Homo sapiens: one gene and its partner. The protein of the gene in region 1 purifies or fractionates together with the protein of each later gene. This does not show direct contact. Each region holds a gene or a part of one and is shown in the gene's direction. Other genes may lie near its edges.

The links.
Region 2: the proteins of WDR70 (region 1) and AMOTL1 purify together in Homo sapiens (affinity purification with mass spectrometry, with the first as the bait; one large-scale study listed by BioGRID). This does not show direct contact.

Annotation. Positions count from the first base shown.
Region 1 is NC_000005.10:37,746,131-37,749,963, forward strand, and holds part of WDR70 (WD repeat-containing protein 70), read left to right. Parts: intron 1-3,833.
Region 2 is NC_000011.10:94,774,689-94,778,521, forward strand, and holds part of AMOTL1 (angiomotin-like protein 1), read left to right. Parts: intron 1-3,833. UniProt on the Homo sapiens protein: Inhibits the Wnt/beta-catenin signaling pathway, probably by recruiting CTNNB1 to recycling endosomes and hence preventing its translocation to the nucleus.

The DNA of each region.
Region 1 (3,833 bases):
ACCACACAATTTCATGGAAATTGAATAACCTGCTCCTTATTGACTCCTGGATAGATAGTGAAATTAAGGCAGAAATAAAGAAGTTCTTTGAAACCAATGAGAACAAAGAGACAATGTTCCAGAATTTCTGAGATATAGCTAAAGCAGTATTAAGAGGGAAATTTCTAGCACTAAATGCCCACATTAGAAAGCTAGAAAGATCTCAAAACGACACCCTAACATCACAATTAAAAGAGCTAGAGCGGCAAGAGCAGACTAATCCAAAAGCTAGCAGAAGACAAGAAATAACTAAGAGAAGAATTGAAGGAGATAGAGACATGAAAAACCCTCCAAAAAAATCAACAAATCCAGGAGCTGGTGTTTTGAAAACATTAACAAAATAGATAAACTGCTAGCTAGACTAATAAGAAGAGAGAGAAGAATCAAATAGATGCAATAAAAAATAATAAAAGGGATATCACCACTGACCCCACAGAAATACAAACTACCATCAGAGAATACTATGAACACCTCTGAGCAAATAAACTAGAAAATCTAGAAGAAATGGACAAATTCCTGGACACATACACCCTCCCAAGACTAACCCAGGAAAAAGTTGAATCCCTGAATAGACCAATAACAAGTTCTGAAATTGAGGCAGTAATTAATAGCCTATCAACTAGAAAAAGCCCACAACCAGATGATTCACAGCCAAATTCTACCGGAAGTACAAAGAGAAGCTGGTACCATTCCTTCTGAAACTATTCCAAACAATTGAAAAGGAGGGACTCCTCCCTAACTCATTTTATGAAGCCAGCATCATCTTGATACCAAAACCAGGAAGAGAAACACACACAAAAAAGAAAACTTCAGGCCAATGTCCCTGATGAACATTGATGCAAAAATCCTCAATAAAATACTGCCAAACCGAACCCAGCAGCACATCAAAAAACTTAATCCATGTCATCAAGTCAGCTTCATCCCTGGGATGCAAGGCTGGTTCAACATACGTAAATCAATAAACATAATCCATCACATAAACAGATCCAAAGACAAAAACCAAAAACATATTTACAAGAAAAAAACAAAAAAGTGGGCAAAACATATCAACAGACACTTCTCAAAAGAAGACATTTACGTGGCCAACAAACGTATGAAAAGAAGCTCAACATCACTGATCATCAGAGAAATGCAAATAAAACCACGAGATACCATCTCACACCAGTCAGAATGATGATTATTAAAAAGTCAGGAAGAATAAATGCTGGGAGGCTGTGGAAAAATAGGAACACTTTGATTATCTCAGTAGATGCAGAAAAGGCCTTAGATAAAATTCAACACCCCTTCATTTTAAAAACTGTCAATAAGCTAGGTATTGATGGAACATATCTCAAAATAATAAGAGCTATTTATGACAAACCCACAGCCAATATTACATTGAATGGGCAAAAGCTGAAAGCATTCCCTTTGAAAACTGATACAAGACAAGGATGCCCTCTCTCACCACTCCTATTCAACGTAGTATTGGAAATTCTGGCTGGGGCAATCAGGCAAGAGGTATTCAGATAGGAAGAGAGGAAGTCAAGTTGTCTCTGTTTGCAGATGACATGATTTTATATTTAGAAAACCTCATCATCTGAACCTAAAAACTTCTTGAACTGATAAGCAACTTCAGCAAAGTCTCAAGATACAAAATCATTGTGCAAAAATCACAAGTATTCCTTTACACCAACAGTAGACAAGCAGAGAGTCAAATCATGAATGAACTCCCATTCACAGTCACTACAAAGAGAATAAAATACCTAGGAATACAGCTAACAAGGGATGTGAAGAACCTCTTCAAGGAGAACTACAAACCACTGATCAAGGAAATATGAGAGGACACAAACAAATGGAAAAACATTCAATCCTCATGAATAGGAAGAATCAGTATGGTGAAAATGGCCATACTACCCAAAGTAATTTATAGATTCAATGCTATTGCCATCAAACTACTGTTGACATTCTTCACAGAATTAGAAAAAACTATTTTAAATTTCATATGGAATCAAAGAAGAACCCCGTATAGCCAAGACAATCCTAAGCAAAAAGAACAAAGCTAGAGGCATCACGTTACCTGACTTTAAACATACTACAAGGTTACAGTAACCAAAACAGCCATATAGACCAATGAAGCAGAACAGAGTCCTCAGAAACCTACACATCTACAACCATCTGATCTTCGACAAACCTGACAAAGACAAGCAATGGGGAAAGGATCTCCTATTCAGTAAATGGTGCTGGGAAAACTGGCTAGCCATATGCAGAAAGCTGAAACTGGACCCCTTCCTTATACCTTATACAAGAATTAACTCAAGATGGATTAAAGACTTAAATGTAAAATTCCAAACCATAAAAACCCTAGAAGAAAACCCAGGCAAGACCATTCCTAGGACATAGGCATGGGCAAAGACTTCATGACAAAAATGCCAAGAGCTATTGTAACAAAAGCTAAAATTGACAAATGGGATCTAATTAAACTTAGAGAGCTTCTGCACAGCAAAAGAAACTATCATCAGAGTGAACAGGCAACCTACAGAATGGGAGAAAATTTTTGCAATCTACCGATCTGACAAAGGTCTAATATCCAGAATTTACAAGGAACTTAAACATATTTACAAGAAGAAAACCCATCAAAAAGTGGGCAAAGGATATGAACAGACACTTCTAAAAAGAAGTCGTTTATGCGGCCAAGAAACATGAAAAAAAGCTCAACATCACTGATCACCAGAGAAATGCAAATCAAAACCACAATGAGATACCACCTCACGCCAGTGAGAATGGTGATTATTAAAAAGTCAGGAAACAATAGATGCTGGCAAGGCTGTGGAGAAATAGGAACACTTTTATACTGTTGGTGGGAATGTAAATTAGTTCAACCATTGAGGTAGACAGTATGGCGATTCCTCAAGGATCTAGAACCAGAAATACCATTTGACCCAGCAATCCCATTACTGGGTATATACCCAAAGGCATATAAATCATCCTGCTCTAAAGACACATGCACACGTATGTTTATTGCAGCACTGTTTACAGTAGCAAAGACATGGAACTAACCCAAATGCCCGTCAGTGATAGACTGGATAAAGAAGTATAGTATTCCATGTGGAATACTATACAGTCATAAAAAGGAATGAGATCTGTCCTTTGCAGGGACATGGATGAAGCTGGAAGCCATCATCCTCAGCAAACTACACAGTAACAGAAAACCAAACGCCTCATGTTCTCACTCATAAGTGGGAGTTGAACATTGAGAACACAGAGAGGGGAACACCACACACCAGGGCCTTTTGGACGTTGGGGTGTGAGGGAAAGGAACTTAGAGGACAGGTCATGCAGCAAACCACATGGCACATGTATACTGATGTAATGAACCTGCACATTCTGCACATGTATCCTGTTTTTTTTTAAGAAGAAAAAAAATATTATGCATACGTATAATGTGGCCATTTTGCTGGCAACATTATGATTAGTTCAAAAGTAGAAATTAAATGTCATGGAGTTTTGCAAAAAGGACTATGATGTTTAACTGTCTTACCTTCCAAACAACTTAATATTCCCTACATTTTAATTCCTAGTGGGGACCAAGGAAACTGTTGTGATCTAGTGATTAGAAATGACAGTTGAAGTGACCCTGATGCAAACATTTACTCAATGAATTAACTGAGTTCAATACTAGGTGAAAAAAAAAACCAAAAACGCAGTATCTCCTTTGAAAAACAAATATTTGTCCTTTTTCTTTTCTCATGGCTGCTAGGAAATTCAGTGCTAAGTTTAATGCTCAATTACCCTTTCATTCCTTGGTTCTTTATTTT
Region 2 (3,833 bases), on another chromosome or scaffold:
CTAAGACTTTGCATTTCTAACACGTTTCCAAGCAATGCTGATGCTGCTGGTACTGGAAACACATGTTAAGAATGACCATTTTAAAACATAGCCCCTTTAAATTGGGCCTGGACTGAGATGCTTACCCTTTGGAATGGAGTTTGTTCATCTATAAGTAATTGAGTTTGAAACAGATCTATTTCTAAGGTTATTAGTTGATATAGCTATATTTCTTCCTCTAATCACTCTTCTTTTGTGCCTCACTTTCCTGACCATGACTTTTTCTTCTATCATTTGTCTCTCACTCCTTGGAAGACATGCCACAACTGGGTATATGGCTACCATATTGCCTTGGTAAATCACTTAGGCTCTATAAAGTAAGTGTATTTACTAAATATTTATCTTCTAAGGTTATTGTGTGGCTTAAATGACATAGTGAATGTGAAAGAGCTTCATAAGAAGTGAAATTTTGTGTAAAATAGTTTTCTTAAAATTATTTTCTGCATCATCAGTATCTTTTTGGAGCAGTGTCTCTGACTGACGGTAAGTTTCATTGCTACTTGGGGGACTTGGTAACGATTGCATAGACATATGCAGGGACCATGGACATACTCAGGGACATCATGAAGAAGGTTCCTGCAGTGGATGGATGGTTAAGCTAGGGTCTGAGTGCCTTCCAAATGGAAATGTTTTGGAGGCTGATTGATAAATAGTTGTAGTAAGGACCAAAGGAGAGCCCAGTGCTGGAAAATTGCTTGAGCAGATGTTGAAATATTAGAGATTCAGCTTCCTCAGAGTAGAGAAATATAACTCTGTGACTTTTTTTTTTTCTAGCAGTTTAGGACAGATGTGATCTGGCCCACATCTATGTTTTTAAAGTTCTAGACCTATGCTGTCTGTAGTAACCACTAGTCACTTGTGGCTATTTAAATTAATGAAAATTAAACGAAATGAAAAATTCAGGACCTCAGTCACACTAGCCACAGTTCAAGTGCTTAATAGCCATTTCCATCACTGCAGCAATTTCTGTTGAGGAGTGTTGTTCTATAGTGAGATTGGCTCTGTTGTCTGATGGCAACACCACTGGGCTTCAGATGATAAGACAGGGACACATTTTTGAATGAAATGTACCACATCTCCCTTGGAGGGCTGGTATGAACTGATTGGGAATGCTCTATTCACTTGAACCCCATTTTACCACTTCTGTTTTGGAGGCTCATTCCATTTGAAAGCTGGGTCAGCATGGCAACTGGGTTATGCTGGCGGCAAAGCTTACCAGGCCATTATCAGGAGATGTCTGCTGTTTCTAGGGATGTTCCACTCATGGGATTCTTCCAGGGATCTGGTCCTTGAGAGAAGCAAATAGAAATGCTTGGGTGGAATTAGCACGGAAAGGTCCTCCTGAAGAGGACCATCAAAGGTCATCCTGAACTTCTCCACCTTGGATCCGTTCCACTGTTGAACCAAGCTTTGTCAATGAGAGGCAGGCAGCTGGCGCTTGTTCATCTCTCCAGTGTTTGCACATGCTCAGATACCATTCCACACTTCATCATCCTATTGTCTCCTTTGAAAGTGTTCTGTAAACTGTAATAAGGTTCATCTCCTTGCCCACCCTACATCCAGTCAGTCTTTAGGTCCTGCAGTTGACCTCCAAAATACTTCTTGCATACTTTCCCTTCCTTTGCATGTCTCTACAGCTAAACCAGTTTAAGGGCTAATTACCTGTTTCCTGGACTATTGTGATAGCCACTCACATAACAGGTCTTCCCACTTCTGTTTTCTTGCACCTCTTCTGACCTACTCTGTCCTTCCTTCTTTCCCTGCTTCCTCCCACCTTTCCTCCACCCTTCTCAGAATAGGCCCAGCAAGACAGGGATGATAGATATCTTGTCTTCCAAGCTTGCTTTGCTTTCTCTTTGTGAGGTAGGGCTCTGCACACGCCCTGTGGCCACGTGCCAGGGAGGAAGGAGGCATCTCACATTCAGCTGCTGCTTCTCAGCTGTGAGGGCTGCTCTGGGTGGTATGACCCAGCAATGTGACCCCTGACAGCAGGTGTGAAGCAGGCCTTTTCCTTTCTGACACGGGTGGTGTTCTGGAGGGCTCTGAGAACCAAGTGTTTTGTGAGCAAGCCTCCTCTATCTGCTGGTCTTGGGAAAAGTAGAGAATATGAAATCCTCTGGTAAGGCCCTGTTTCCTGAGGGACTGGCTCCTAAATATCACTGCAGTTATAGGTTGATTACTCATCCTGGTGATGTGGGAAAGGTTGGAACATAGAAGAAGGGCAGACAAAGAGATTAGGAAATGTGCTTTTTATGGAAATTACTGGATGCAGCACTCAGTGCATATCATTAAATTCATTGCAGAAAAACACATGTAAAACCAATCTAGCTTCTTGAAAAGAGAAATGGTCTAATGGTCTTTTTATCTAAAAGAGCAAAGAAAATGCCTTCTGAAATCACAGTAAGCTTCAATTAAGACACCTGGGAAAGTAATTTTAAAAGCATCACACAACCATTTATACAAACATTGAAGATAATGGCGGTGTCAGGTTTGTTTAAACTAGTAGGTTTGTTAAAGGACATAATCCTGTCAGGCTTATCTTCCCGTGGTATTGACTGGCCTGGCAGATCAAAAATGAGTGGTAAGTGGCATAAAAATGGTGAATAAATATACCTTAGCTGACTTTTAGAGTTGATCCTGTATGATAGTCATCAAAAAACTGAAGAATAGAGTCTAAAAAGTCTACTTTGAGATATATATTAGCTTAACCCTGAGTTGAGGCATTACATTTCCCCAAATTCTAACATTTCTTACTTTCAAATTTCTCCAAAATAAATTCCAGGAGTTTGGAGAAAAAAATTGAAATAAAGACAAATATTTACATTTTAATGACATTTATTAAGTGACTAAAATAACTTTATTAGTTTAGGAACAAAAAATGGGTTATGTGTAATTGTTTGTTCATAAAATAAAATACTGAATTTCTTGTATTAAATTTAGTAATTTATTTAGGCAGTAGTCACAATTATGCTAATTGAATTTACTTTGAATATTTTCAATTTCTCTTATAGAAGAGACATTAGGGAGCATGACATTTCTTATTTTGGACAGAATATAAATTAGGCAGAAATTTGGATACAGAATCACTCACTCCTTAAATATCTGTTGAGTGAATAACTCTGCTTTGTACAAGTCAATACTGAGGTGGAGAATTTGATGGGGTTACAATAAAAGGATATATAGTTCATCCATCTGATATTTGAGGGTCTGTCATGTGCCAGGAACTGGGCTAGGTGTGGGATATATATCCTTTGCTCCCCATGGAATTCATATTCTATAAAAGGAATGTAATGTATTAAGATGTTAGAAAACAAAAGACAAATGAACTGGGTTCGTTCTGCTCTAAGAAGAGAAGAAAGGATTCATAACTGTCTTTCAAGTATTTATTTTATTTTCACTTTGAAATGAGCTTAAATCACAGATATCATGACTTCTACAAGCTTAGAAGAGTTCTCTCCTGGGGAGGGTGGATAAATACAGATTAGGAGGATATGGAGGGCAAAGAGGCAACCAAAGAATTAATAGAAGTGTGGGGGTATCTTACTAGAAATCTGCTTAAATTGAGAAAATATGATGTAATGTCCTGCCTGATGGTGGGAAGAGGACCCTAATAGGCTAACTGTGGTGTGCCCTTTGGATATCTTTTTTTGATTTCAGTAATTATCTATGGAGCTTAATGGTTAAGACTCCAGAACTGGAAACCTGTATTCACACCCAAACTGTGCCACTCACTAGCTTTATAATCTTGGCTAAATTACTTAACCTCTCTGTCAAGTAGAATTTCCTCATGTGAT